Homo sapiens: one gene and its partners. The protein of the gene in region 3 interacts with the protein of the main gene of each other region in a pairwise test. Each region holds a gene or a part of one and is shown on either strand. Other genes may lie near its edges. The genes, in order: SLC35B4, CLDN19, TMEM52B and TMEM14C.

What was found.
Region 1: the proteins of TMEM52B (region 3) and SLC35B4 interact in binary tests that used the Homo sapiens proteins (3 or more experiments, as listed by UniProt).
Region 2: the proteins of TMEM52B (region 3) and CLDN19 interact in binary tests that used the Homo sapiens proteins (3 or more experiments, as listed by UniProt).
Region 4: the proteins of TMEM52B (region 3) and TMEM14C interact in binary tests that used the Homo sapiens proteins (3 or more experiments, as listed by UniProt).

The regions. Positions count from the first base shown.
Region 1 is NC_000007.14:134,305,946-134,314,937, reverse strand, and holds part of SLC35B4 (nucleotide sugar transporter SLC35B4), read left to right. Parts: intron 1-5,458; coding exon 5,459-5,572; intron 5,573-8,163; coding exon 8,164-8,266; intron 8,267-8,992. UniProt on the Homo sapiens protein: Antiporter that transports nucleotide sugars across the endoplasmic reticulum (ER) membrane in exchange for another nucleotide sugar.
Region 2 is NC_000001.11:42,736,573-42,746,396, reverse strand, and holds the start of CLDN19 (claudin-19), read left to right. Parts: upstream 1-6,160; 5' UTR 6,161-6,333; coding exon 6,334-6,556; intron 6,557-7,811; coding exon 7,812-7,976; intron 7,977-8,083; coding exon 8,084-8,168; intron 8,169-9,824. UniProt on the Homo sapiens protein: Forms paracellular channels: coassembles with CLDN16 into tight junction strands with cation-selective channels through the strands, conveying epithelial permeability in a process known as paracellular tight junction permeability.
Region 3 is NC_000012.12:10,187,907-10,193,171, reverse strand, and holds the end of TMEM52B (transmembrane protein 52B isoform 2 precursor), read right to left. Parts: intron 3,277-5,265; coding exon 3,032-3,276; 3' UTR 1,368-3,031; downstream 1-1,367.
Region 4 is NC_000006.12:10,726,009-10,733,558, forward strand, and holds the end of TMEM14C (transmembrane protein 14C), read left to right. Parts: intron 1-2,631; coding exon 2,632-2,719; intron 2,720-4,606; coding exon 4,607-4,658; 3' UTR 4,659-5,119; downstream 5,120-7,550. UniProt on the Homo sapiens protein: Required for normal heme biosynthesis.

The DNA of each region.
Region 1 (8,992 bases), on a different chromosome or scaffold from region 3:
TGAGGGATAAAAAATGAAAAAAAAATTGTATCCAACTGTAAATCTGATACACTTTTAAAGGAAGGCCACTTTGGCAACAATTGATTTGAAAATATAAAAAAGTTGGCCAGGCATGGTGGCTCACACCTGTAATCCCAGCACTTTGGGAGTCCGAGGTGGGTGGATCACGAGGTCAGGGGTTCAAGACCAGCCTGGCCAATATGGTAAGACCCCGTCTCTACTAAAGATACAAAAATTAGCTGGGCCTGGTGGTGGACACCTGTAATCCCAGCTACTCAGGAGGCTGAGGCAGGATAATCGTTAGAACCCGGGAGGTGGAGGTTGCAGTGAGCCGAGATAGCACCATTGCACTCCAGCCTGGGCAACAGTGCAAGACTACGTCTCAAAAAATAAAAAAAGAAAATATAAAAAAGTGATACCATCGGGCCAGCCATGGAAATGAAAGTCAGGGAATAATGGTAATATTTGTGTTGAATATGCCATTAAATTAAATCTTGCCAAAGGCTGTATGACATGAGAATATGCAAGCAACTGAATCCCCTCTTTACTAGTTTGTGAGCCCTTGACTGAATTACTTGATCTCCCTGAGTCTGACCCAACTGTAAAAGGGGGTGATGGTGATGATGGTTCTACCAGCTTCACAGAGTTTTGAAGGATGAAGTGAGATGCGCATGTGAAGCCTAAAGCACACTTGTAGGGCTTCCCATTCTGTCCAACAATTTGGTTTCAATACAGATATATTTCTTTAATATATAAAAGAAAGATATATTTCTTTTTTATATATTTATGGTCCTACAAAGTCGTGGACAAATCTAATTTTATAAAATATTTTCATGCATTATAGGAGCTCCTATTTAAAATATTTTGAATAATTTGTAAATAAATCATCACTTATCTTTTTTTTGTAAATCTGCATTTTTTGCATAAAACAATGGGTTTTCATAAAGTGGTGAGGAGGTGCATTTATTAAAATAATCAGTGGTGCACCAGACTGAATAGAGCCTTTTCCTAAGACAAGTCTCCACTTCTTGTGTTACAGATCAATAAAATAAGAGCTAGTTGAACCAGATGGCCTTAAGGTTCTTTCTAGATATGGCCTTGGAATTTGTGACTTTATCTTGGGACATCACAGTGGAAGCCCCATAAATTTTTATAGCCTAGGAACTGTGCTTTTTATATTGGCTGGCTTGGAGCCAGTAGGTGCCCTAATAAGTAGCAAGTATAACACTAAATATAAATGCTAAGTGACTTGCAGGAAGAAGAGGACATTTTTAACCATTTTCCCCAAATTGGAAAACAAACTCAGGCTTTTCTTTCTGATTTTTATCCCTATGATTGGGACCAATAATAAAACACAATGCAGTGGACAGAGCAGATAGGTAGTAATGGACGAGTGCCTTGATATTCCTCCTTAGGGAGCTTACATTCTACCTTGGAAACAAGATATACACACACCAGCTAACTAACTAGGCAAGATATTATTGCTTGCCTTACACCAGAAAAACAATCTGAAACATTTTTTTTCCTATTTTATTTTTCATTCAAGTGCCTGATCTTGAATTAAATAGTTTCCTAAATTCAGCAAAAGAAATGCAAACGGCATAAACGATCTGCCCAATTCATTCTCTTCAAAGTTGCATTCTTTTTTAAATAAAAATTGGAATTTTTGCCAAGAGAATTCAAAGTAAGAGAAACTGTTTGCAGTTAGTGATTACAATTCCTGAGGAAGAGAGCTCAAGAAAACAAGATTAAGGGATCCAAGTTTTTACTCTGAAGTTTTAAAATGAATTATTCAAGTTAAAATAAATAATTCCATTGGTAGCTATACAACAGTGTGTTTCGAAAAGGCTTCATAAGTTGAGCTTTCAAAAATTAAATTATTTGAGTACATTAGGGAGATTTTTAAATTCTATAGAAATAGAAACAAAAAGTAGAATAGGGTTATTGCTGGACTGGGAAAAGGAAGAAATGGAAAGTGACTCAAAATGGGAATAGAGTATCTCTTGGGAGTGTCCTAACATTAGATAGTGGCAATTATTGCACAACTAAAAACCCATACTTAACCCCACTGAATTGTAATAATCATAATGCTAAGGGTAACCGCAAATGCCATTTATTTGCCGTTGACCGCTGGGAGACTTACCTGACGCAGTGCAATGGGACCCTCAGCGTCTTTAGAAATGGAATGAAATGGGCATATCAATACCCACCTCCATAAAATAAAAAGTATTAAGATGCCCTTTTTAAAAATCCTATAGCGAATACACATGTCATGTGAATCATTTTTTAAATCTCTTTTTATCTTTTGTAGAAATTATAAGATTCTAGATCACATTGGAACCCTCACATTCATTCTCTTGCTTGAGTAAAGGTGGGTCACTGACCCGAAAGTGAGAGCAGAAAGGTAAATGGGACATGGTCTGTCCCATCACCATCCCTGCTAAGGCACTGGCTTCTGACGTCCTCCTTCGCATCTGGCTCTCCCATATTGTCATCTTCTTGGGCAGGGATCCAGTCCCATTCAAGTTGGGGGCTCCCTGGAAGCAGCCACCTAACTCTACACATAATTGAGTCTTGATAATTGTTCTTTAGTTGACTTGGCCTAAACTTGTTAAAGAGAACATAGAAGGAAACTTTGAAGCCTCTTTTGGATTACCTCTTGTGCTTGGCACTTACATGTATTTTCTCATTGAATACTCACTACGACAGTGAAATCAGTTTCATTTTAGAGATGAGAAAACTTAGTCAACTGGAATGTCTTTTAAAGGCTGAAGACCTTTCAGCCTGCAAGATCCTAAATACTGGTCATCATATTTGCCTTTTTCACTCTGTGGCAGGCGCTGTGTTAAGTGCTTTTCAGGGATGGCTCATTTACTCTACAATAAATCAGAGATAGGCACTCATATGGTTTCCATTTTAAAGATAAAAACACTAGACTTAGATAAATTAATTCACTTCTGTCACATAGCAAGTGACAGAGCAACATATCGCATGTCGGTGTGTACTTTTAAGCACAGTGGAGCATAGTGGTTCTCAACCTTGTGTCAGCACCTGAGAACTACCTGTGCATTCACATATACAGCGACACATGCACTCACATACACTCTCAGCCCTTTCCCTGCACCTTGACTGGTATTTCTCCAACCTGGCTGCATGTGACAATCAAGTGGAAAGCTTTTAAAAGTACAGATTCCAGGGTCCTACCCCAGACTAATCAAATTAGAAGTGGGAGAGTGAGCCTCTTTGGGTAAATAGGTTTTTTTGTTGTTGTTGTTTGTTTTTGAGACAAGAGTCTTGCTTTGTCACCCAGGCTGGAGGGCAGTGGCATGATCTCGGCTCACTGCAACCTCCACCTCCCAGGTTCAAGTGATTCTCCTGCCTCAGCCTCCCGAGTAGCTGGGATTACAGGCATGCACCACCACATCTGGCTAATTTTTGTATTTTTAGTAGAGATGGGTTTCACCATGTTGGCCAAGCTGGTCTCGAACTCCTGACCTCAGGTGATCCACCTGCCTTAGCCTCCCAAAGTGCTGGGATTATAGGTGTGAGCCAGCCACCGTGCCGACCATTTGGGAAACAGGTTTTTAAAAAGCAGAGTAGGCTGGCCCGAGTTCCAAAGCACCGTGCTAGGAACCATCTAGAGTTAAAGTTCCTTCTGTCACTCATATTTAGGCTAATGGTTTTAATTAGGTCCTTGAATGAGGTAAATGTCTTACATGATTATTTATGGATTCCTGCATTTAGCCTTGTCCTTTGAACATAAGAAGTGCTAAAAGAGAACTTGTTGAATTGAATAGAAAGCAGTTTTCAAGGAAACCTTCATAGGCAGCAGAGCTTAAAGAGTAGCAACATTTCTGTTTCAGTTAGTAAGCCTAGTTCTGTAGAAGAATGGCTCATGCCTGTATTGTCTTATTTTTGTGCCTAATGGGTATATTTAAGGACTTGTATATCTTGGCATTGCTGTATAATACTAATACCAATGGAGAATGGAGTCATTTCTGGTAAGTAGCAGTATATTAATATGTAATAATACAATTACATACCTCTCACCAGCTTCAGGTAAATGCCTTTGGTCAAGATGAAAATACAGAGGCCGGGTGTGGTGGCTCACGCCTGTAATCCCAGCACTTTGGGAGGCCGAGGCAGGTGGATCGCAAGGTCAGGAGGTGGAGACCATCCTGGCTAACACAGTGAAACGCTGTCTCTACTGAAAAAAAACAAAAAAATTAGCCGGGCCTGGTGGCGGGCACCTGTAGTCCCAGCTCCTCGGGAGGCTGAGGCAGGAGAATGGCACGAACCCGGGAGGCGGAGCTTGCAGTGAGCCAAGATGGCACCACTGCACTCCAGCCTGGGCGACAGAGCGAGACTCTGTCTCAAAAAAAAAAAAAAAAGATGAAAACACAGAATACGAAGGCAGGTGAATATTGGTATTATAGGAAATCTGGAAGCTTCAGGAGAGCAAAGATAACTGCTCACTTTGTTCTTCTTCCAGCGATTGAGCAGAGCTGAATGGAAGACAAGCTCAAGAAAACCTGAACATTTTAAATGACTAGTTTTCAGAGTGCCTCAAGATGAATGTCAGGAGGAAGTTTTTAACTTTGTAAATTTGTTCCTAACAATCACTGTTGAATGTGGGGAATCTTCCCCAACTGTTTCACAGATCACTAAAGAGACTCTATTGAATTCCACAAACATTTTTTGAGTGCCTAATATATTCAAAACACTGGGTTAAGAGCTGTAGAGAATAGTAGACTACGGCAGTGTTTTTCAGTCTTTTGTTCATTATGCCTCCTCCAGAATACTTTTTAGACGTTGTTTTCTTAATCCCTCCCCTGCCATAGATATAGTGTGTACTGGTTCAGGTACTGTATGTATATTTGTACTTTATTGTTATAAAAAGAGTAAGATATCTCCCCCATCCCAAGAACCAATTTTGCCCCGTTGCTGGGCACCATTTAAAGTAATGTTCCTATCATCAACACTGGGTCCATTTTTCGTTTGACAGCAGTCTTGGTGATTCCTGGTCAGGAGGGATATATAAACATTCCAGGAGACCTGAGCATATTTCTGTCCCTGGGCTTTGCTACCTAAGCTGACTGGGATCCTGATTAAAGACCTTTCTGGTGAAGCAAAGATCCCAATAAGAACATATGACCAATTTCCTGCAGTTTACTAGGAAAGCTGTATCGTAGTTCTGGGAACAAGTGTGTCGTCACAGTAATTCTCACTCATGGCCTGATACACGCAAGGAAGAGTTAAATAAGAAAGCTTGACATTCTTCTCTGTGAGATCAATGCTAAGTATATGTGATCCAAAGGCTATGAACATTGAGATAAAGGACAGTGGGTAATTGAAATCCATCCACGCTGTTATTCTGGCCCTCTAATTAGAATGCATTTTAGTGTTCTGTATCTCAGTTTTTGTGCCTTCACCCCCTCTTTTATTATTCACTATACAGGAAGCATCCAGGATGTGGGAACATTGTGACATTTGCACAATTTTTATTTATTGCTGTGGAAGGCTTCCTCTTTGAAGCTGATTTGGGAAGGAAGCCACCAGCTATCCCAATAAGGTATGGTACATTAGAGTCTCTTTTAGCTTTTGGATTTTTTAAGAAAGTAAAGAGGTGGTACCTGTATAAAAGGAGGATGAGACATTCTTTTATAAGATTTATTTCAAAGATACCAGTAGAATAATAAGTCATTTTCTGAATTTAATATGTTGTGAAAATCCGGGGTACCTACTTCGAAAATAAAATTTCTGCCACAAGATTTAAAATAACCATGATGGAGACAAGAGTGTGTATGTGTGTGTGTTCTTATTTAGTATAGGATTAGTCAGAAGGCCTAGTGTGACCACAAATTTTGTGCTGTCTTCTGTGTTGGTGAAGTTATCAAACATTCTAAAAGGGGAGTATCCTTGTTTCTTTTTAAAAACGAATGGCTTTTGGAAATAAATAGAGGTAGTAGTTACATAACTTTGTGAATGTACTAAATGCCACGGAATTGTTCACTTTAAAATGGTTAATTTTATGTTATGTGAATTTCACCTCAATTAAAAGAAAATGAATGGCAAGCAAAGTCAAAATTTGTTGATGCCAGACCTGTAGTACATTAGTCCAAATGTGCATAATTGTACTCATGGGGCCAAATAGAAAACAGGGCAGTTCTTATGTTAAACAGTGTATTGAAAACTCAGCCTTCTTGCTGAGAGTGACTTGAGATAAAAGTGTAATCCATCCAGTTGTGAGTATTTAGTAGGATGATGTCACTTACTCCCGTTTAGAGCGACATTCTGGTGTGAATATATCCAAGTATGAAGGCAAAGGCCCATCTTTGTTGGTTTTCTTTTGCAGCATTCTTACGTAGCCTGCTATAGAAAATCTGGCTGAATTTTGTTAATATTATACTTTTAAAGTTCCCAGTGCGATGCTAAATATTCCAGATACTTTTAGTTTTTCATTTGCTTTAGTATCTGCATAAAACTTTCTGCCCCTAAAGACCAGCATTTATATTGCAGTAAAAGCCCCAGCATTTCTTGACTCCTCTGGCCCTTTCCTGCCTCTTCCCACTATCTCTCCCCATTCTCTCCACCACTAGCATAGATCAGGAAGTATACCCTGTCACCATATCTTTTATAATAGCATCCTAGCTGGCTGACTTCCCTGCCTCCCACCTCTTCATCCATCAATTTCACTTAATATCGTTTTATCATGTCGCCCCACTCTGTGGTTACCACGATGTTCTGAATGATGTCCAGACTCCCCATCCTGCCCTTTGAGGGTCTCTGTGATCTTGCCCTCATAACCATATTCTCATGCATGTCCTATGTGTGTTGGCCATTTTATTTTCTGTAGGTGGAGCCATAAACAAAATTTTGCTCATGTCGTTCATCCCCATCCACAATTTCTAGGCAAGCAATGTGGAATAGTTAAATTAATTACCCTAAAAGACCTTGACAAACTCTGTAAATGGCACCTCTTCAAGGTAGAACTAAGAAAATTTGGCAAGAAACTTTGTAAAGTCGCTGATAGTATATTATTTAGAAGCTGTGAAGAAGCTGTTGCTGGTAATTTTGCATATGTGTTCATTGTCAAGTTCCTCAGACTTTCCAGACTATATTAATTCAGCCTTGGCTTGACTGCCTGTTGTGGTGTATGGCTCCACACCTAACTAGCAACGCAGAATCGGTTCTTTCAGGGAAGATCACTTAGGACTCAGTGCTGTCATATCCTTCAGATGTGCAAAGGTGGAAAATGGTTGGGAATCTCCAAGATCAACATTTCCTGAAGAATATGGAACCACTTATTTGCTTTTGCCCTGCATTCTTTAGCCATTTATTTTAAATGCTGTTTTTTTCTCTTACTCAATATAGGAAGTTGAGTCATATGAAATTTCTGACATTCAACTCTTTTTGACCTATAAAAACGGCAATTTTATATGGTTTGGCCCAATATATGTAGAAGGCATCTTATGTATTTTCTGAATCACAGTGATGACATACAAATGTAAAATTATTTGTTTAATCCATCTGTTCATAATAATTCATTTGTATTTATCCCTTTAAGTTATTAGGGTTACTGGATTTTTTTTTTTTTTTAGTTTTTGTTTCTATTATTTTAAGACCTATAAACTTTCAAAAAACAGAGACCCTGATTTTAAATAAAAATCTGTACAAGTCAAACCATGTCCTCATTAATTTGGAGGCCACTAGTTCAGAATGCGGGAGAATTTTAGCAGCTGCTAGGCTGAAAATAATCCTTAACTTAGCAAATACTTTCTTTAGAAACAGCGAAAATTAACAGTACAAACAAGTGTATAGAGGAGGTATTTGAGAAAATCAGCCATTTTCAAGTTCTTCAGAGGTATATGAAAATTATTTACAAAGAATCAATACAATCATTTTAAGTTGCTATGTATACTTGAAAATTTTTAAATAGTGTTTCTTTAAATGTATTTTATAACTTAGATTTTCCCATGTTAGTCTGGCTTTGTGAAGCGTTTTGATATGTACTTAGTAGTTGACATGGCATAATAGTGATGCAATCTTGCAACGCAGAGGAAACAGGCAAAATGCCTTTTTAGCCAAAAATATATATTTCCTATACTTGATTTTCTTGAAATCCTAGATTCTGTTTGATGAGCTGTTCTGTCTGCATTTCAGGTACTATGCCATAATGGTGACCATGTTCTTCACCGTGAGCGTGGTGAACAACTATGCCCTGAATCTCAACATTGCCATGCCCCTGCATATGATATTTAGATCCGTAAGTGCTGCCGGATCACGTGTATATGTTCCTCTGAAAAGTATAGTTAAGTAGATCGATTGAATATATGGCAGAACTAGAAGGTTCTTGTAGTAAGTGGTCTTGGGTAGAAGAATAGGTTTGTGAATGCGTGAGCAAGGGTGGCTTTCATCTGAGAAGGCAAAAAGAGAAATCTCAAAGTGGATGGTTTACTTTTATTCTTCTGAGGTCTAATGAGTGATTAATAAAAAGAAAATTAAATTTTCCCTAGGAAACAGATTTTACCTTCATTTTCCCTCATCTCTTTGATTTTATATTCAAACATGCTATTAATGTTATTTAACTTATTTCTTATCTCTTCTTCTTTCATAAAAGTACATTTACTTCTAGAACATGAAAGAGATACTTGTCTTTTCTGATTTTTTTTTTTTTTTTTAAGCAGAGACTTGAGATAATAAAGGGAAATTCTTGATGAAGGTAGGGTTTCTCCCAAAGCACTCCAGGCAAAAAAGGCTGATAATTGTGGTGATAACATTTCCATGTGGTCTGAGATTTTTGTGAGATTGTACTGTTCCTGAAGGGAGTTTCCAAAGCAATTATAATAAGGTGACCTTCAAAGCATTGAAAACATAGTGGACTTTCAATAAACACCTGTTGATTGATTGTCACCTTTTTAGAGAACAGAGAGATCCTTGCATGACTTTTTCCATTAAAACTGGTCAGGGGCTGTGCACAGTGGTTCAGGCC
Region 2 (9,824 bases), on a different chromosome or scaffold from region 3:
TAAATGATTCATGGTTTTTTTTACTTGGTTTGTTCAGACAATGGAAATTTGCCCATTCTGTCCCAGAGGTCTCACTTGATAAAAATTGCTCTAGGCAGGACCCAGTGGCAGGTGTGGGACGAGAAGTCCTGGCTTGGCACCTGGCTCAACCACTTGCTGTGCAGCCACAGGCCAGACACTTAACCTTCAGCACCTCGGGGTTGTCATCTGTATAATGGGGATCATAGTCCTCCCTCTGCTCACCTTCTGGGGCAGCTGTATGGCCCAGATGCAATATCGGATGTGACAACACTTTTGTAAACGGTAAAGCTCTGGGTGAATGGTTGGGATTATTGTTAATCCTCTTCTGGCAGGGAGCGGCGGTCAGCAGTGCTCTGGCACGTCACCCCTATGTCAGCCACATGCTTCCTGCTCTGCCGTCTGGCCTCAGTGTCCTGTATCTCGGCCTCCCTGTGCAGGAAGACACACTCTAGGAAACACTGGAAATGGAGATTCAGCTCCTCTGGCTACATCCCTGGTACTAGGTCCAGAGCTTTTACTGTGCTTGAGATGCCACAGGGCGTTGAGTGTAGGAACCTGCACATGAGTGTTCACTTCTTCCATCAATCAATATGTATTTACTGAGCACCAGCTAAGTGCCTGGTGCTGGGAACGTGGCAGTGAACAAGTCCCCACCTTCATACAGCTTGTATTTTGTAGGAGAAACAGATAACACATGTAAATTGTGTGTGTGTGTGTGTGTGTGTGTGTGTGTGTGTAAAACCCTTAGAGGTAGAAAATAAAACAAGTCAGGGTCCAAGGTGGAGGAAAAACAAGGAAGCCAATGTGGCGGTGTAGATTGGTCAAGAAAGAGTATGGTGACATTAGCCAGGAGACGTGTCACGTGCCTGTAGTCCCAGCTGGACGCTGAGGCAGGAAGATCGCTTGAGCCTGGAAGTTCGAGGCTGCAGTGAGCTATGATCGCCCGACTGCACTCCAGCCTTCACAAGAAAGCAAGATCCCAACTCTAAAAACAAATAAAAAGGAAAGTGGTGGATTGTCAGGGGTGTCTGGGGGCCTATTTTTAAAGTAGAGCCAACAGGCATTGCTGATGGATTGGATGTGAGGTGTGAGAAAAGGCATCAAGAAGAAGCTAGGCCAGGCTCAGTAGCTCCGCTTGTAATCCCAGCAGTTTGGGAGGCGAAGGCCAGTGGATCACTTGAGTTCAGAAGTTTAAGACCAGCCTGGTCAACATAGGGTGACCCTATCTCTAAAAAAAACTTGAAAAGCCAGGCATGGTGATGCACACCTGTGGTCCCAATACTAAGGAGGCTGAGGTAGGAGGATCATGAGCCCAGGACGTCAAGCCTGCTCCATTGCACTCCAGCCTGAGTGACAGAGCAAGACCATGTCTCAAAGAAAGAACAAGGCTGGTCTTTGTGGCTCACGCCTGTAATCCCAGCACTTTGGGAGACTGAGGTGGGTGGCTCACCCAAGGTCAGGAGGTCGAGACCAGCCTGGCCAACATGGTGAAACCCGTCTCTACTAAAAATACAAAAATTAGCTGGGTGTGGTGGCAGGCGCCTGTAATCCCAGCTACTCGGGAGACTGAGGCGAGATAATCATTTGAACCCAGGAGGCGGAGGTTGCAGTGAGCCAAGATCACGCCATTGCACTCCAGCCTGGGCAACAAGAGTGACACTCCATCTCAAATAAATAAATAAGAACAAAAACAAAAATTTCAATTAAAAAGTTTATTGGGCTGAGCACAGTGGCACACACTTGTAATCCCAACACTTTGGGAGGCCAAGTCAGGAGATCACTTAAGCCCAGGAGTTCAAGACCAGCCTTGGCAACATTGGAAGACCGTATTGCTATTAAAAAAGAAAAATTGTTTTTTAGGAAACGATTATTTTTTGAGCTGGGAGATAGCACTGCGTGTTAGTTGGCTGGTGGGAATGATCCAGTCAAGACAGTCACTCCTCCTTTTATCATGGTTGATCCCCGCCATCCTATTTGGGTGGCTCACTCGGCGTACAGAGAGGACCACGTTAGTGCAAAAAGCATGAACTTTACCCACACACTGAGCTGGGTGACACTCCCACTTCCACCATGTGGAGTTGTGTGACCTCCAGCAAGTTAGGGAACCTGTATGTGTTTCCTCACCAGCGGAATGGAATCACAGTCCTTCCCGCGATGGTTGAGCGGATGAACAAGGGAATGCTCACAAAGCAACCAGCACGACACTTAGCCCATGGTAGACATCAACATTACAGAAGACTACATCAGCCTAATTCTGGTTTTCCAGAAGTTTCCACATCAAGGCAGATGACTTTACAGTTTCAACTTATGCTAAACAGATACAGGCAGCAGCCTCTTAACTGAGCTCACAAAAGGCCAGATGTTTTCAAGGCAGCAGGCCCAAGATAAGTGTATATAGAGTGGGGCGAGTCCTCCTGGAAGCATGGGGTGATGGCAGCCCGGCTGAGATGCGACTGTGATTTCGGTCTGCGTTTGGTAACGCACATGCAAGGGCGCGCGAGCAATGAGAGGATGACTGCTTGAGAAGAAAGGAGAGAGCCCATGGGAGGGTTGGAGGGGATGAAAGGCAACTCCTCAAACACAGTGAAGATTTGGATGTGGAAGACGCCGCTGGTCTCTGGCGCCCCAGGCATCTAGCAGAGCTCTCAGCAGGGGCATCAAGAGACAGATGCTGTACTCAGTGTGGTTAGCACAGGTAAATGGGACAGCCACATGTGTCACAGAGGCGCAGGGCCCGGGCGAGAGGGTGGAACACAAAAATGTGTCTGCTAACACAGTCTCAAGGTGCTCAGGGACCTTAGGAAGGAGGTAAACGACGCAATAAGTGCAGTGAATGGAAATATGCCAAGAGTATGATGGGATTGCAGATCAGGATGCTTAGCCGTGCCTGGGCAGGCAGAATCGTTGGGGGTGGCCACACAGCTGGCTGTATTGCTTTCTAGCTGTGCGCCCTGAGGCAAGTAGTCTCCATTCCAAGCTTATAGTTCCGGGAATCTCAGACTCTGAGTTGGGAGGGTGATAAGAACTCCAAAATTTCAAATGATGATTGCAGAGAAGGTGCTAGATTGCTAAAGACTGAATCGGACCCTCCTAACTGACAATGAGAGAGGGCGGTGGAAAGGTCTCCGATTTTTCACAGGGAGGGAGGCAAAAGCATTGAATCCTCATACCAATCAGTCAATGATCAACACATACCTAGCAAGGCTGGCTCTCGGTCAGGCACTGTTGCAGAGGAAGTGGCAGTGGGTCTTCAGCCACAGGCAGTCTGCCCACTCCCAGAGTGCGAAGGCTGGAGGGGCAGACTGTGCGGGGAGTCTTTTTGGAACAGAGCTTTCATTAGTCACAGTTCTGCAGGCGTTTTATGCTTTCAAACAGCCTTTCTCACCTATCATCTGATCCTTGTAAACTCCCTCATGCATCAGACAGGGCAAGTGTTATTATCCCTACTTTTCAATGGAGAAACCAGGCCCAGGGAAGCTGAGGATTTGGCTAATGTCCCATAGCTTTTCAGTGGCAGGGGTAAAGCTAGAACTGTAGGCTTCTCATAGCCTGAGTGAAAGCACAGGGTGCTGTGCTACCCCAGGGCAGTTTCAGTGAGCTCTTAATGGAGGCTGGGCTGTGACCCTGAGCCTTCCTGTTCTCCCCGCATGTCTGGGAGTCATTGGACTGCAAGGGGGGGCACCAGGAGTGGTAGGTGTCCTGGGTGGAGAAGCTGTGCCAGGTTAAGGAATGCCGCTCCAGAAGCAGAATCTGAATTCCAAAAGGCTTTGGAACAAGAATGAGGGAAGGCCGTCAGGGTAGGAGAGAATATTTTGGTAGAACAGACTCAAAGCCTCAAATAACAAAGAGAAGGGATAAACAGAAGCACTTCAGAGGAAGAGGAGAGCACTGTTCCGGATCACGAAGAGGCTCTGGGAACACCCAGGATGGAGGAGCATGCAGGCCTCCTGCTGGCTCTGTGGCCCTGTGGACCCGTGGCTCCCTTTCTCTCTTTGGCCCTCAAATTGTCAATGGAGGGGGCCGCAGCCCATGGTCTCTGAGGCATGCTTCTGACTGGCCTCTGGGCTCCTGACCCAGGTCCCCCTGAAACCAGAATGACCCCTGGATCTTCCCTACAGAGAGAGCGCCTGCAGATGGCGGGGAAAAGGGGCCAAGGCCCAGCGTGGAGAGAAGGAGGACTTTGCCTTTGGAGGAGCATATGCGGAGCAGCTACCCAGCACCAGGCCCCTGCCCTCCCCAGACATCGCTTACTTTAACGGACCACCACAACTCCATGAAGCAAACCTCCCATTTAGAGTGAGGACCCTGAGGCACCACAGTCATTCAGGTCACCCCTGGGGAGCATCTTGTCACTGCCCGCAGCCCCCTTCAATCTGGACCTGGTGCCTCCCTCAAAAAGGGAGGAGTGTGGGAGAGAGACCACAGGGGCCAGCACCACACAGTTTCAAGCGGAAAGCCCTTCCTGCTGTTTCCTGGCTGGGGGTCTATTACCTCCCTCTGCCGTGGTCTCCTTACTGTTAGGAGGCCTGCTGCCTGCAACAGTGGCCCACATGCTTAAATTAATGCACTGGTCACAGGGTGCCCATTGCGGCCCCAGTAGGATGGAGGAGGCTCCCCTCAATCCTACTGTCTTGTCATTGTGGTAGAAGAATCTGAGCTCAGGACTTACTTCTCTGCCACTGTCCTAGACCCCATTTGGTCTTGGGACCCACAGGTCGTCCAGGAAGCAGGTCTGTGTGTGCTCGGATCCACGTGGCTCTGACCCTCCCAGCACAGAGAGCCTGAGGGTCCCAGTGTGCACCACCACAGGTCAAGCAGTGCCCACCCTTGACCCTCAGATGGCAGACCACTCCCCCATCTCTGGCCAGAGCTGCAGGCCATACCAGAGGCCTACGCCCTGGGCGGGCACACAGGGCTGCCATTGTCTGCTCAGCGCCTGGCACCCTCTCGTTTGCATAGCCACGTGAAGAATGCAAGAGCGGGCTGGGGACTTGTCCCTTCAGAGGGGGGTTGGGGCTGTGGGGGAGGAAGCCAGCAGGGGTCTGCAGCAGGACCCTGCCTTCCCCCAGTGCAGTCCAGGAAGGGTGGGTGGGCTGTTGGGGACGGAGGGGGCGGCGGGGGGCTGGCAGGAGTGGAAGCAGGGTTGTGACATTCCTTCTGCACCCACGCTGCAGTGGGGCCCACTTGAACGTGAGGGGATTGCTAATGAGGTGGAAGAGAGTTAAACATTCCCCTACTCCTGAAGACCAAGAGAGACTGGGAGAGAGAAGAGGGAGGTGGGGGTGCTCGGAGCGGGCAGCCTGAACCCCGGGAATGTGCAGAGGCCACTGCTCCGCGCCAGGCTGCTCTAGAGTTGGGGGCCAGGGCCCAGTGTTCCAGTCCCAGCAGGAGCTACTAAGCCAGCCAGCAAGGGGATTAAGGGGCTGAGCAATCCGCCTTCCTTCAGGCTGATGCCAGAAGGTTGGGGCTGTCTCCCCAGCTCCCCACCAGGCCCCTTGCTGGCCGGCAGCCAGCGCTGGCCCAGCCTCGATAGGGCCCCTTTTCTGTCCCCCTCAGATCTCAAAAAGACCCCACAGTACATATTTCCTGGTCTGGCCTCCCTGATTTTTGGCACACACAGCTCCCAGGTACCCATGACCCCTCTTCCCAACACCCCACCGCTAGCTCAGCCTCCCCACATCCAGCTTCAGAGCCCCTGCCAAAAAGTTATCCTTGACATCTAACTCTAGTTTTACCCGCTGCAAACTGGCATTCCTTTCCCTTCTGTCCTAAAGTCAAAGGGCAGAAAACCCCAAGGGTTAGATCAGCCTTGCAAGAGCAAAGTCCATCCTCCCAGGGCTGGTGTTTGGGTTAGGGATTATCCGAATTTTAGGACACCCGAATCAGGTTCCTAAAGGGGTTTCCCTGTGGGGAAAGGCCCAGAGGGCAGCTGGGTCATTCCTCTCAGCCCCTCCCTTCCCTATCCCTGCGGAACGGGGCGGGGCAGGGACACCACCTGGGCCATGGGCCGGCCCTCCGCCCCCAGGGGGCTGGGCATGAGCTTTGCTGGGGACCCTGCTCTGGCTTAGGCGGCTGCTGTGGGCGGGCCCTGGCCTTTTCCAGCCCCTGGGCCTCCCCCTGCATTCTGGAGTCCAGAGCCACTGCCTTTGCTCCAGCCGCTGCCGCCGCACCACCTCTCCTTCTCTGCCTCTGACCCTCCTTCTCGCTGCTCCCCCTGCCCAGCTGCTCCTCCCACCTGGCCATGACCAAAGCCCCTGCTGGCACCCTGGCCCAGCTCTGAGTCCTGGGACCCTCGGTCCTCTCTCCTGGGCCATGGCCAACTCAGGCCTCCAGCTCCTGGGCTACTTCTTGGCCCTGGGTGGCTGGGTGGGCATCATTGCTAGCACAGCCCTGCCACAGTGGAAGCAGTCTTCCTACGCAGGCGACGCCATCATCACTGCCGTGGGCCTCTATGAAGGGCTCTGGATGTCCTGCGCCTCCCAGAGCACTGGGCAAGTGCAGTGCAAGCTCTACGACTCGCTGCTCGCCCTGGACGGTAGGCCCCAGGCCGGCGGGGTGGGAGATGGGAGGTGGGAACAGCAGGGGAGTCTGGAGCAAGTTTTCCTCACAGTCTGCTATCTGCGCTGGGCTCCAACCTCCAGCCTCCGCTCTACAATTCCCCCACTACTGCCCTGTGCCCATTGACGGTCCAGGCCAGCCTGCTGCCCTGTGGGAGGGGAGGGCTCTAGGGTCTGGCGGCTGTGGGTCCAGATTCCTGCTCTGTCACTATAACTTTGAACTAGTCACCAAACCTCTTCCCATTGTGATGTTCTCATCTCTAAAGGGGAATACTAATACCTGTGGCACTCTGAAAGACTCAGTTAAGACCCTTCATCCACTTCTCCCCACAGTCAGTAGACAGACACACACTGTATGATGCACACCTGCTCCCTAGTCCTGCTCCCAGGCCTGTGTGCCAGCATATGGGTGCATGCACATGCATGCAAACACGCATGCACACGCACACACGTGCACATGCATGCACAGACAGGTGTGTCTGCATGCAGTCCCTCTCCTTCTGGGGTGTGGAGATGAGCCTGACAGGCACCGCCGAAGTTCTAACTCTGGGGTGGAGGTGATCCACCTGCAATCTGCCCAGGAGCCCCCAGGGACAATCTGCTCCCCATGGGAGCTGGGAGCAGAGCGGCCTTCAACCAGCCCCATTGTGCCAGTTCAGGCAGGTCAGTTCAGGCAGGTCATCTAGCCTCGCTGAGGGACCCAGGTCTCCTGAGCACCCCCCAGGGCCCAGGATGGACCCATGCACCCGTGAAGAGGCAAGCTTCCAGCTGCCATGGGCAGAGGGGAAAGTGACTGTTGTCTGAATGGCTGCTGGGGAGGGGTTGCTGCGGGGCTCAGGCTGAGTTGAGCTGGGCCTCAGATACCCCCAGCTCTTCCACCTACCAAACCTGAGGGGACCCTGGAGCTGCCCTCAGCTGCTTGGGAGGATGGGCCAAGCCCAAGAGGGAGTCCCCAGGCCAGAAAGCAACAGCAGAGTGAATCATACTACCGGAAAAGCCTGCAAGGGCGAGTGGAGAATGGCGTTGACAGTGAAGGGGACTCTCACCCCCACACCCTGTCCTCATGCCCGGGCTGTCACTCCTCACTATCCTGCACCTGCCAGAAGGTGGTCTGACCCCCCAGGCCAGCTCCTGCTCAAGCCCCTCTCAAGCTGGGCTCCTTCCACCGACCCCAGGCACCGACCCAACCCCCATCCCCGCCAGCCCGACTCAGTGTCATCCCGCCCACCCTAGGTCACATCCAATCAGCGCGGGCCCTGATGGTGGTGGCCGTGCTCCTGGGCTTCGTGGCCATGGTCCTCAGCGTAGTTGGCATGAAGTGTACGCGGGTGGGAGACAGCAACCCCATTGCCAAGGGCCGTGTTGCCATCGCCGGGGGAGCCCTCTTCATCCTGGCAGGTGAGTGCCCCTCACTCCTGCACAATCACAACCATGGCAGGCAGCCCCAGCCCCAGTGGCCTCGGGGGGCCAGAGCAGAGCTGAGCGCCCCTCTGCTTTGTCTTTAGGCCTCTGCACTTTGACTGCTGTCTCGTGGTATGCCACCCTGGTGACCCAGGAGTTCTTCAACCCAAGCACACCTGTCAATGCCAGGTGGGTGCCAGGGCTTGGGTCTTTTGCTTTACCTCCTCTGGGGCCACTGACCTTTGTCCACTGGATCACCTGGCGGGGGAAGTGGGGACAGGATCCAGCTGCTGTCCAAGAAGCTTTAAAGGGGGGCGCCAGGAGGAGTGTGGTGGGGCCCTCCATAGGGGCGGGAGGCCTGTGATGGGCACCCAGGTGCAGCAAGGACTCTCTAAGGACCTAAGTGCCCTGGCTCTGGGTTTCAATCCCAGCTCTGGCTGGGTGCAGTGGCTCACGCCTGTAATCCCAGCACTTTGGGAAGCCAAGATGGGTGGATCACCTGAGGTCAGGAGTTCAAGACCAGCCTGGCCAACATGGTGAAACCCCGTCTCTATTAAAAATACAAAAAATATCTGGGCATGGTGGCGGGCGCCTGTAATCTCAGCTACTCGGGAGGCAGAGGCAGGAGAATAGCTTGAACCCGGGAGGCAAAAGTTGCAATGAGCCGAGATTGCGCCACTGCACTCCAGTCTGGGTGACAGAGTGAGATTTTGTCTCAAAAAAATCAAACGATCAATCAATCCCAGCTTTGCATGCACTGTGTCACCTGGGCAAGTTACTTAATCTTTCTGTGCCTAGTTTCCTCCTCTGTGAAATGGAGCTAGAACCTGAGCACCAGTTCACACATGGTTGTCAGGATCCAGCAGGATGCAGGTGAGGGTGTGGCACCGTGCCCGGGCCCTGGACAGTACCCAGCAAGCCTGAGCTGTTTTCATTTCTGCTGGTGGCAGCAGGGCTGAGATGACTTCCTGCAGGAGGCAGCAGTTATTCTGGGCCAGGAAGAAACTTGAGAATAAGGGCAGATCGTGGAGGGCCTTGCAACCACAGGAAGATTTTGTTCCTCATTTGGGTGGAGGCAGCGGCAGTCCTTCTGGCTGTGATGTGCAGAATGGTGGGGAGGGAGTGACACCAGGAAGGCGGCTGTCCCAAAGGTCTGAGCAGAGAGTTTGGGGCAACAGGGAGGGAGCAGTGGAAAGCAGGCTGATATTCAGGAGATAACCAGGACTTGTAAGACTGTGGGCATGGGAACTGAAGGGGATGCTCTGCAAAGGGCCTGGGCCCACCTTGGCTCCTCCCTCACTTCTCAGCCTAGCCAGGAGCAGAGAATGGGACAGTCTTAACCCTAGACATCCCAATGGGCTTTGGGCCTTGGGGTGGAGAGAGGATGAGAAAAGATGTCTGGGCTTTTGCAATCGGGAGGGATGCCTGGAGGAGGCAGAGGTGTTGAGAGGCAAGGGGAGGGAGGAGATCTCAGGTACAAGGTTTGTTCCCTGGGTGGTGGCTGCAGCCACAAAGTCTGCCAAGCAAGGTCCAGCTCAGGCATGTCAGGATAGGACTCGGCCCCCGATCCCTTCAACAGTCCCCAATGCCACTTGGGCTGCCAGGCCCTGTGCTGGGTCCTGGGGACACTGATGGCTCTGTCTGCCCTCAAGGGGCTTCCCAGGGAGCCGGACAAGCAAGGGGCTGAGGCCTCCTGGAGAAAGCATGGTAGTGGAGTCGGCGCAAGGGGCGGGGTGAACACAGAGGATGTCAAGGAAAGACCCCACGAAGAGGTGGCATCTGAACTGGGCTCTGAAGGCAGAGAAGGAACAGGGGAGGCACAGGAGTGGTGGGCTGGGGGGCTTG
Region 3 (5,265 bases):
TAATTTTTGTATTTTTAGTAGAGACGGGGTTTCACCATGTTGGTCGGGCTGGTCTCGAACTCCTGACCTTGTGATCCGCCCTCTTCGGCCTCCCAAAGTGCTGGGATTGCAGGCATGAGCCGCCGTGCCCAGTTGGTACGTAATTTCTTAAATCATACTTGCTGAACACACATAAAACCTGTTAAATGATTGTAATGCAAGCACAACTCAAATTATTTATTTATGTATGTATTTATTTATTTATTTATTATTTTTTTTGAGATAGAGTTTTGCTCTTATTGCCCAGGCTAGAGTGCAGTGGCATGATCTCAGCTCACTGCAACCTCCACCTCCCAGGTTCAAGCGATTCTCCTGCCTCAGCCTCCCGAGTAGCTGGGACTACAGGCCCGCACCACCACGCCCGGCTAATTTTTGTATTTTTAGTAGAGACGGGGTTACACCATGTTGGCCAGGATGGTCTGGAATTCCTGACTTCAAGTGATCCACCCACCTCGGCCTCCCAAAGTGCTGGGATTACAGGCGTGAGCCACTGTGCCCAGCCGAGCCAGTGTTTAAAGAGTAGATGTGAAGAAAGTTAAAAAGGATTTTAAAAAATTGAGAACAATAATGATGGTGATGGAGGTGATTAACAGATGTATTAGATTCAGTATAGAAAGAATTGAGGCCAAAGGGGTACAAATAACTAGTGACCAAATGGGGGAGTTACGGGAGTGAGAGACTCCATGTGACTGAGGAGCAGCACATGTGAAGCAGATGAGGAAAAGGCACACTATGGGATGGACACAGGGGACAGGGTAGTAGCATGTCATGGTTGGAAGTGATTCTATATTTCAAATAAGGTGGTAGGGGCTAGGGAGTGGATGTGGGGAAGAGAGATTCCTTTAGGAATAGACATTATGTCTTATCCTTTAGGATAAGACATTATAGGCAAGATTTCCCCCAAGATATTCTAATGCCAATGAACATTTTACCTTTGCCAAGTCTGTGATGTCCTGGTGCCTTAATAGAAGAGCCTAGAATGTCTTTTGGAATGTGTCTTTGATGACTAAATGACTCATTTGGCAGCAGTAAAACAAGGTCCCTTCAGGCGCTATTAGCAATTCATGCATTTCAATAATTCCCAGAGCCAATTTGTTAAATGACTCAGGATAATTTCAGATCCCCAGCAGGTTATACTCAGAACATTTTTCCCTCCGGGCTGAGTGAGCATTCCAAGAATGTAGTTAACAAGGAGCTGCATAATCAGCCAATTCTTGGCTCTGTGTTGCCTCCTTGAGTTCTGGAGTTAATTAATTGCCTAATAAACAATTAGTTTTCTCAAATATTCCTTACCTCTACCCAGAACATATTACGAGGAATCACTTATATCTGTTGCTGTTTACCGCAATCAACAAGTATTTATTGATAAAAACAAAGCCATTTCAGGTGTGACAACAGTAACATAGTTGGCAAAAAGATAAATGGGAACATGGCTCTCAGATAAGTCATAGCAGGCAAGGGAAGGTTAGAAGACAGTAGGAAGAATAACATACATATGCATAACACTTTACAAATCATGCCACATATATTTAGCTTCTTTGATCTTCACAAAAACCTTCTGAGGTGTTATTATTTCCCATTTTTTAGGGAAAAAACGGCTTTAAAGATTTCAGGCCAGGAGCAGGGGGTCAGGCCTCTAATTCCAGCACTTTGGGAGGCCAAGGTGGGCGGATCACCTGACGTCAGGAGTTCTAGACCAGACTGGCCAACATGGTGAAACCCCCTCTCCACTAAAAATACAAAAATTAGCTGGGCACGGTGGCAGGCAGCTGTAATCCCAGCTAGTCGGGAAGCTGAGGCAGAAGAATTGCTTGAATCCGGGAGGTGGAGGTTACAGTGAGCTGAGACCATGCCATTGCATCCCAGCCTGGGCTACAAGAGCAAAACTCCATCTCAAAAAAAAAAAAAAGGATTTCAGTGACTTTTCTAAGGTGAGTAGTTTTTCCCTAAATGTGCGTCACTTCCTCGATTTTCCAATAATAATACTTTGGGAGGTGGTATGTTTTGTGGATAGATTAGCACTGTGCTGCGGCATGGTCCATGGGAAGCATCTCAACCAGGCTTAGTTCAGCATTTAGTTTTTGCTCCAAGAACTCGAGAGATGTGCAGATAGGCTCAAAGGAGAGAGTGTGTTTTCCACCATGGCTCCTCTAGGTGGCAGTGAGGGCCACCACTAGAGACTAGCGTGTGTCACTATAGAGGTGTTGTGGCTTTAAGTGGTCCAGGCAAAACAGGAAAGAAGTAAAGCAACACTATTCCTTTAGAGTTAAAACAGGGTGCAGGTATACATGCATGTGCGCACATATATGTGTTTGCAGTGCGGAGGAACTGAAGAATTAATCCAACTGTGACTGCACAGTATGGAGTTTTTCATACTGCTGAGGGGTAGGACCAGAGAGAAAGAAAGACTGATATTTGGCACTTAAATACTATACTGTGTTCTCTTTGCCCATATCAGCAATGCCATCCCTAGCTTTTAGATATCCGAGTGGGTATGTTGTGCTGTCTAAGATGATCATTGTCATTCGGTGTAAAATCGATTGCTGTCTCAGGAGGAAAGATGCATGCATTCAGTGCATTAATGTCGATGGCTGTGCTGACACTGTTGTCTTTCTTTTCCAGTTAACCGCAGTGGATTCGCTGACAGAGAGAGACACAACTTGCAGTATCATGTGGGTACAGGAATTCTATATGCACTCAATAGTTAAAGGAATTCAAGACACCTTGATGCTTTCCTGGTTTAGTAGTAATCAGTGTGGCTAGAGATTACTTGCAGATTTTGGCCATTGGATACAAAATTAGAGTTCCCAATTAGAGCATTCTGTATCGGAAGATATAAAGGCCTGTGAACGAAGAGTAAGAACCATCTTTCCCATAGAATGATGGTGTTAGATGCCATCTTAAAACTTCTGAGGGTTAGAAAAGTATGTGTTCCATTTTCCCACAGACTCTGGACATCACTCCACTCCTATTTATAAAATGACAGCTCTCATCAGTTCCAAGAGTCAACTATTCGAGTCGACTCCTTCTCTGTTGGAGGCAGCTGCTTTTCTTCAGGTACTGGGGGTAGATCAGGTGCTTTCTGCCCGCACATGGCTACTGTGAAGCGACTCATGTGAAGAGCTTCTTCATACCCTGGGAGGGTGTCCAAAGAGGAGGGCAGCTGGCCCAGGGAGCTGTGGGAGTGAGCCACAGCCAGGATCCTCCGAGCTGCAGGGCCAAACACCGACTGCAGAGCTGTGAAGAAAGAAGGAACAGAGCTAAGAAACTAAGGGAAACAGGACACCCTCAGACAGCAGAGACTTACTTCACACTTAACTGTCGCTTCATTTTTTACAAGTATCCAAACTCATTGTCACTCCTTGCCCCAAATTTTATGAATATCCTTTGAAGCATGTTTACAACCCAGCTTCCTGCTCTGCTAGAAGGACCTGTTTTCTCTGGTAACCTCAAATAATCTAAAGAATGTTTCTGTATCTCTCTCTCTCTCTTTTTTTTTTTTTTTTTTTGAGACGGAGTTTTGCTCTTGTTGCCCAGGCTGGAGTGCAATGGTGGATCTTGGCTCATTGCAACCTCCGCCTCCTGGATTCAAGTGATTCTCCTGCCTCAGCCTCCCAAGTAGCTGGGATTACAGGCGCCCGCCACCATGCCCAGGTAATTTTTGTATTTTTAGTAGAGACAGGGTTTCACTATGTTGGCCAGGCTGGTCTTGAACTCCTGACCTCAGGTGATCCACCCGCCTTGGCCTCCCAAAGTGCTGGGATTACAGGAGTGAACCACCACACCCAGCCAAGAATGTTTCTGCATCCTGCAACTCAACCCTGCCCTTTCCCCTTTCAGACTTAGATCCCTTTCCCCCAGCCCCCGATACTATAGACTCCTTAGGATTATTTATTTTTACCTCATCTCTTTTCTTTTTTTTTTTTTTTTTAGACAGTGTCTCACTCTGTCACCCAGGTTGGAGTGCAGTGGCACAATCTCGGGTCGCTGCAACCTCCACCTCCCAGGTTCAAACAATTCTCTCCTGCCTCGTCCTCCCGAGTAGCTGGGATTACAGGCATGTGCCAACGTGCCTGGCTAATTTTTTTTTTTTTTTTTTTTTTTTTTTTTTTTTTTGAGACGGAGTCTCGCTCTGTCGCCCAGGCTGGAGTGCAGTGGCGCGATCTCGGCTCACTGCAAGCTCCGCCTCCCGGGTTCTCGCCATTCTCCTGCCTCAGCCTCCTGAGTAGCTGGGACTACAGGCGCCCGCCACCACGCCGAGCTAATTTTTGTATTTTCAGTAGAGATGGGGTTTCACTGCGTTAGCCAGGATGGTCTCGATCTCCTGACCTTGTGATCCACCCGCTTCGGCCTCCCAAAGTGCTGGGATTACAGGTGTGAGCCACCGTGCCTGGCCAACAAAAGTGCCTGGCTAATTTTTGTATTTTTAGTAGAGGTGGGGTTTCACCATGTTGGCCAGTCTGGTCTCAATCTCCTGACCTCAAATAATCCACCTGCCTCGGCCTCCCAAAGTTCTGGGATTACAAGCATGAGCCACCATGCCCAGTTATCTTTTTTCTTTTTCTTTTTCTTTTTCTTTTTCTTTTTCTTCTTTTCCTTCCTTCCTTCCTTCCTTCCTTCCTTCCTTCCTTCCTTCCTTCCCTCTCTCTCTTTCTTTCTTTCCTTTTTTATTTTTTGATGGTGTCTCACTCTGTAGCCCAAGCTGGAGTGAAGTGGCGCCATCTCGGCTCACTGAAACCTCCGCCTCCTGGGCTCAAATGATTCTCGTGCCTCAGCCTCCCGAGTAGCTGGGACTACAAGCCCGTGCCACCACGCCCAGCTAAATTTTGTACGTTAATAGGGACGGGGTTTCACCATGTTGCCCAGGGTGGTCTCAAACTCCTGAGCTCAGATGATCTGCCCGCCTTGGACTGAGCCACCGTGCCCAGCCTTGGTTATCCTTTTTTCCTAAGATGACAGTGAGAAAGGGGAGGTAGGAAAGGTGAACAGCAACACATCATATCATTCTATTTTGTTGTTGTTGTTGTTTTGAGACAGGGTCTTTCTCTGTCGCTCACCCAGGCTGGAGTGCAGTGGCACGATCTCGGCTCACTTCAACCTTTGCCTCCCGGGTTCAAGCGAGTGTCACGCCTCAGCTTCCCAAGTAGCTGGGATTGCAGGTGTGTGCCACCATGCCTGGCTAGTTTTTGTATTTTTAGTAGAGACGAGGTTTCACCATGTTGACCA
Region 4 (7,550 bases), on a different chromosome or scaffold from region 3:
GTATGTCTGCTTTGGCGTCTCCTTAGGGCAGCTATGTATCCAGAATACTCTTTTCCAAAAGACCCTGGTTTGGTGGGATGGGGTGAGTTCTTCACACTTCACTTACGACAATTTCACTGCTTCTACCAAGTCCTCAGAAAGTTTTAAAATGAGGGTGCAGAGGCAGGAATTATGCTGGTTTCTGTTTATCTTTTACATACAGAACATGGAAGGATTTTCATAGCTCGTGACTATATTTACCCAGTAGCATTAAAATTCTATCAGGCAAATGTATCAACCGTTGAGGTTGCCCACTGAAGACCTTTGGCTTCAGCATCACTAAACTATCACACGTCTGGGTTAGGTTTGCATCTGAATTGCGATTTCCCCATTTGAAAATCACCTCTTTAGCAGTTAGCTAAATGTGACTGCAGTGACTCACACCTGTAATCCCAGCACTTTGGGAGGCCGAGGCAAGTGGATTACAAGGTGAGAAGTTCGAGACCAGCCTGACCAACATGGTGAAACCCCATCTCTACTAAAAATACAAAAATTAGCTGGGGGTGGTGGCGGGTGCCTGTAGTCCCAGCTACTTGGGAGGCTGAGGCAGGAGAATCACTTGAACCTGGGAGGCAGAGATTGCAGTTGAGCTGAGATCACACCACTGCACTCCAGCCTGGGCGACAGAGCAAGACTCCATGTCAAAAAACAAAAAACATAGGCATAGAAGCAGGACTGGAAAGGTACCCTGTAAGCAGCACGGACAGTGAGTGGTGTGGGGGACCGAAGAGTCCTCCTTATCAGAGTGGCTTTCAGTACATTTCTGTGGGGCTCCACCCATGTGTCAGACACTGCTAGGAGTGTGGGTTCCTTGCGGTCTCTACAAACCCCGTGTGAGAATGAGTGCCATGTGGGAGGGAGAAGCCATGTGATCTGTACATATCAGCTGGGGTGGGGAAGGGAGGTCCGTGATGGCTAATGGGGTGTGCTGGGGAAGGAGGTGTGTCCAGGTCCCAGCTCTGCCTAACAGCTCCCTCCCTCATGCTCCAGAATGACTTGAGCCTGCATTTTCCCTTTCTCTGATGCTACTCTACTCAGCAAATGACCTCACGCCTATTGTAGGGAAAAAACAGCAGCCATCAGGTGGGGACTCCTGGAGCCTTTAATCTCCAAGCCTCCCCTCGTCCTGTTTCCCTCCTCTCCAACACCAGTGTCTTCCTCTGGGCTTTGGGTGTCTTCTCCCTGATCTTCTCCAGACCTTTACACTGGCCAGGATCCTGTCTTGTATTTGTATTCCTCCTTTTAGGTGGATCCCCGCATTGATATTCAGATGTGCTTGTCTCCTTCCCCTTCATAAACTTCCCTTTTTTTGAGATGGAGTCTCACATATTGCCCAGGCCAGAGTGTAGTGGCACAACCTTGGCTCACTGCAACCTCCACCTCCCAGATTCAAGCAATTCTCCTATCTCAGCCTTCTAGGTAGCTGGGATTCAGGCGTCCACCAACATGCCCGGCTAATTTTTCTATTTTTAGTAGAGACAGGAGTTTCGCCATGTTGTCCAGGCTGGTCTGTAACTCCTGACTTCAGGTTTGGGAGGCCAAGGAGGGTGGATTGCCTGAGCTCAGGAGTTTGAGACCACCGTAGGCAACGTGGTGAAACCCGGTCTCTAATTTAAAAAAAAAATTAGCCAGGCGTGGTGGCGGACGCCTGTAGTCCGAGTTACTCAGGAGGCTGAGACTTGAGAATTGCTTGATCCCAGGAGGTGGAGGTTGCAGTGAGCCAAGATCACGCCACTGCACTCTAGCCTGGGCGACAGATCAAGACTCTGTCTCAAAAATTAAAAAAAAAAATGTGACTCTGTTCATGTGTCCTTCTGCTTAGCATCCTTTAATAGCTTCTCATTGTTCTTACGATGAAAACCCAAACCCCAGTATGGCCTTCAAGGCTCCATGTGGTCTGGCACCTCTTACTCACAAACTGCATCTTGACTTCTGTGCCATGCTGCCCTTTTAGGGTGAATGTCCCATGCTCCCTGTCACCACAGGGCCTCTGCATATACTGTCCCCTCTGCCTGGAATGGGCCTTCCCATCCTTCAGCTCATTAATTCCTGCGTAATTTCAGATCTCAGCCAATCTTCACTTTTTTGTCTAAGCCTTTTTATTCGTGTGAGTCTTTAAAGTCTGTCCCATCAGACCTGAAGCACTGTAAAAGGGCAAAGACAGTTACAATAACCTTTGTATTCTCCAGCTCCTAGCACAGCACTTGACATGTAGTAGGTGCTTCGACAGATACCCAGTGGGAATTGTGTGCAGGGTAGAGGAAGTAGCGTCTGCAGGGCGTGAGAAACAGTAGCATTTTGGAGAAAACTAACATATTGATGGCTAAAGTGTGGGTTTTGCAGAAGACAAGTGGTAAGAGATGAAGCTGGAAGGGCAGGCAGGACCCAGGCTGTGAAGGGCCCTATTTGGCCAATATTGGTACTAGGACCCATAGGATGTGGGCAGTCAGTAGTCTCCCCGACTTGGGGAAAGAGGAATAAGCATAGGATGAGGCGTGAGCCTTGAGAGATGGGTGGGGCTTGGCCCACTTCTGATTCCCCTGCGTAGAAGATGTAATGAGTTTTAACACTTCTTTATATGTTTTTCATCAGCTACATCTGGTACCTTGGCTGGCATTATGGGAATGAGGTTCTACCACTCTGGAAAATTCATGCCTGCAGGTTTAATTGCAGGTGCCAGGTACTTTCATTCTATTACTCTTCTTTACCATGTAGAGTTCAGTTTATTCCCCAGGATACCTTATGCATTCAAAACCTTACTTGTTTCAGGATATCTGATGCTATGTATCAACTGACATTTGATATATACACTAATAGGAAATGTTTCAAAAACAATAGCTAGTTTAATGTCAAAATGGCATGAGTATATCCATTCACCGTGGAAATGGGTTTGTTCTCATATTTGCTTTCCAGTCCATCCAAACTCCTCCCTATATGGTGGCAGAAGTTTTAGTGCAAAGCCATGACTGCAGCCTTTTGTGTGACTTGCATGGAAGATTTGGGGGCCCCATATTTCTTAGATGTGTAGATGTCTTTTACAGAAAATTTTGCTAAAAGAGAATTTTGATTGAATCCTGTTTTCTATTTTTTGTTGTTGTTATTGAGACGGAGTATCACTCTGTCACCCAGGATGGAGTGCAATGGCGTGATCTCCGCTCACTGCAATCACCATCTGCCTCCCGGGTTCAAGCGATTCTCATGCCTCAGCCTCCGGAGTAGCTGGGATTACAGGCGTGCACCACCATGCCCAGCTATTTTTGTTGTTTTGGTAGAGATGGTGTTTCACCACATTGGCCAGGCTGGTCTGGAACTCCTGATCTTGTGATCCGCCCACTTCGGCCTCCCAAAGTGCTGGGATTACAGGCGTGACCCACTGCGGCTGGCCCTGTTTTCTAATTTTGATTATAAAACCTAAACCAAATTGTGGTTTTTAAAAAATTTAGTTGTGGCTGGGCACAGTGGTTCACACCTGTAATCCCAGCAATTTGGGAGGCAGAGGCAGGCGGATCACCTGATGTCAGGGGTTCAAGACCATCCTGGCCAACATTGCGAAACCCCGTCTCTATGAAAAATACAAAAATTAGCTGGTTATGGTAGTGGGCACTTGTAATCCCAGCTACTCGGAAGGCTGGGGCAGGGAGAATTGCTTCAACCTGGGAAGCGGAGATTACAGTGAGCTGAGATCATGCCACTGCACTCCAGCCTGGGGGACAGAGCAAGACTCCATCTCAAAAAACAAACAAACAAACAAACAAAACTTTAGTTGTAGGCCAGGTGTGGTGGCTCATGCCTACAATCCCAGCACTTTGGGAGGCCAGAGCGGGCGGATCACTTGAGGTCAGGAGTTCAAGACCAGTCTGCCCAACATGGTGAAACCCCATCTCTATGAAAAATACAAAAATTAGCCGGGCATGGTGGTGCACACCTGTAATCACAGCTACTTGGGACACTGAGTCAGGAAAATCTCTTGAACCTGGGAGACGGAGGTTGCAGTGAGCCGAAATTGTGCTGCTGAACTCCAGCCTGGGCAACAGAGGTGAGTGAGACTCCATCTGAAAAAATAAAAATAAAAAACCTTCTCAAAAACAAAAAATTTAGTTAAGTATCATAAAGACATCCTGAAGGTAGGGGAATTTTTAAAAATCTGTTTTGGAGAAAGATTACATACTCTGATCATAGTTGTGATGCTACCAGTATAATGTTTTATACCTGAAGCAAGGAAGTCAGTGTGGAGCAAGGTCTAGAGCAGTAAACTGAGACGCTGGAGAGTCTACCATTAATCAGATCTGTGATGGTGGGGAGGCCTTGCTCTCTCTTGCCTCCATTTCTTCATCTCTTCAAATTATTGGCAGTTGGGTTAGGATCCAGCTCATGTGTGCTATTTTAAGACTCCCTTGGCTTGCTTTTTCTCTGGTTCCTCCAGGGATGGAAATTTACCCCTGACCACTCTTGCCTTAGTACCTCCTCCCCCACGCAGTTGTGAGGAACCAGCAGTTTAGTTCCTTAAAAACATAGTTGCCTGTTCTGTCCTTTACCTGACATTTTCTATCTTGTTTCTTTTAAACAGTTTGCTGATGGTCGCCAAAGTTGGAGTTAGTATGTTCAACAGACCCCATTAGCAGAAGTCATGTTCCAGCTTAGACTGATGAAGAATTAAAAATCTGCATCTTCCACTATTTTCAATATATTAAGAGAAATAAGTGCAGCATTTTTGCATCTGACATTTTACCTAAAAAAAAAGACACCAAACTTGGCAGAGAGGTGGAAAATCAGTCATGATTACAAACCTACAGAGGTGGCGAGTATGTAACACAAGAGCTTAATAAGACCCTCATAGAGCTTGATTCTTGTATATTGATGTTGTCTTTTCTTTCTGTATCTGTAGGTAAATCTCAAGGGTAAAATGTTAGGTGTCAGCTTTCAGGGCTCTGAAACCCCATTCCCTGCTCTGAGGAACAGTGTGAAAAAAAGTCTTTTAGGAGATTTACAATATCTGTTCTTTTGCTCATCTTAGACCACAGACTGACTTTGAAATTATGTTAAGTGAAATATCAATGAAAATAAAGTTTACTATAAATAATATTTCCTATGGGGTCTTCATTGCCAGAGCTGTCTAGTTCATAGAATGAGATATTGCTAGCAGCAAGATATAGAAACATGAAAGTATTTTGTTAATATTTAGAAATTACCTATTTTGAATAACTTAAGGACCAAGGAAACTTATTTGATTGTACATTGCATTGAAGCTTGTTTCAAAAATGACCTCTGAGGATTTTTTTTGTTTTTCAAGAGACAAGGTCTTTCTCTGTTGCCTAGGCTGGAGGGCAGTGGTGCAATCATATGTCACTGTAGCCTCAAACTCTTGGGTTCAGTCATCCCACCTCAGCCTCCTGAATAGCTGGTACTACTGGTGCATACCACCACACCCAGCTAATGTACTTTTTTTTTTTTTGGAGATGCAGTCTTGCTCTGTTGCCCAGGCTGGTCTCAAACTCCTGGTCTCAAGTGATCCTCTCGCTTTGGCCTCCCAAAATGTACTGGAGTAATAAGCATGACCTACTGTACCTGGCCACTGAGGTTTTCTTCTTTTTTTTTTTTTTTTGAAACGGAGTTTCGCTCTTGTTGCCCAGGCAACCTCTGCCTCCCGGGTTCAAGCCATTCTCCTGCCTCAGCCTCCCAAGTACCTGGAATTACAGGCATGCGCCACCATGCCCGGCTAATTTTGTATTTTTAGTAGAGACGAGGTTTTCCATGTTGGTCAACCTGATCTCAAACTCCCGACCTCAGGTGATCCGACTGCCTCAGCCTCCCAAAGTGCTGGGATTACAGGTGTGAGCCACCATGCCCGGCAGCCACTGAGGATTTCTAAAGTTAGGACTGTGGGCTGGGCACGGTGGCTCACGCCTGTAATCCCCACACTTTGGGAAGCCGAGGCAGGCGGGTCACAAGGTCAGGAGTTCGACACCAGCATGGCCAATGTGCTAAAACCCCATCTCTACTAAAAATACAAAAATTAGCCAGGTGTGGTGGCGGGCGCCTGTAGTCCCAGCTACCAGAGAGGCTGAGGCAGGAGAATCACTTCAACCCGGGAGGCAGAGGTTGCAGTGAGCCAAGACCGCGCCACTGCACTCCAGCCTGGGCGATGAGACTCTATCTCAAAAAAAAAAAAAAAAAAAAAATTAGGATTGTGTAGCAAAATTAAAAGGTGATTTTTTTGTTGTAATTAGTTCATACATAAATGTGAAACTAGAAAACCCATCTAGAGCTTGAATCACCTAGTTTGGTGTCTTTGTTGGACACATTAACTGGATACTGGTACCGTTTCAACACGAAGAATTAACTCAATCTGGTAGCCCTTGCTTTAGTTTTCATTCCGTCTTTAAAAAGGAAAACATACCATGTTCTCTACCCTGTTACTGCTTCAGAGTTTAATTCAGGCACTTTATGTATTTGCATAAGCCCCTTGAAAGTGGTCCTAGTTTTCCATCCTTTTTTATAGGACACTGAACAACTAAGGGCACTTGTGTTGGAGTGATAGAGGCATCAGAAGGCCATAGACCATCCAAACCTACCATCCTCCCAGGCTTCCATAGCTAAGAGTTTGAATCATGTTGGCCCTTTCATGTGTCATGCAGTGTTGCCAAAGGGCACACATTTTTGCCACCTTCAGTCCTAGAGGAGGACCTGGCTCCTGAATGACAAGGTTCCCTGAAGGTGGGATTAGTTTAGGTGCCAAGTAGACTGTAACTATTTGGTCCCCAGCAATCAACCTGGAAAATTCTAAGGCTGCCCACAGATGAGAGGCAAGAGGTCTTCATAGCTCTTGCCAAGTCCCCTTGTCCCTGCTTCTCTGCAAAAATCCCTGAATATTTACTATCGTTAAGGGTTGTACTGGGTCCTGGTGGGTCCGGAATTGGTTCCTTCCAGTACACTCTTGGTGTTGCCAACTTCAAGAATGAAGCCTTAGACCCTCGAAGTAAGTGTTACAGTTCCTAAAAGATTGTGAGTCCGGAGTGTCTTTCTTCTGGTGGGTTCGTGGTCTCGCTGATTTCAGGAGTGAAGCTGCAGACCTTCGCTGTGAGTGTTAACAGCTTTTAAATGTGGCGCGACCAGAGTTCATTACTCCCTTGCGGTTTTGTAGTCTCCCTGACTTAAGGCGTGAAGCCGCAAACCTTCAGTGTTACAGCTCTTAAAGGTGGCGTGCCCAGAGTTGTTCTTTCCTCCCAGTGGGTTCGCTGACTTCAGGAGTGAAGCCAGACCTTCGCACGGAGTGTTACAACTCTTAAAAGCGGCACGTCTGGAATTGTTTGTTCCTCCCCATGGGTGCGTGGTCTTGCTGATTTCAGGAGTAAAACCACAGACTTCTACGGTGAGTGTTACAGCTCATAAACATAGAGCAGACACAAAAACTGAGCATCAGCAAGATTATAAAGATCAAACTACCCACAGGAGGGAAGAGTACCCAAGCTGCTGTTGGCTCCGGTTGCCAGGTTTTATTCCCTAATTTGGCC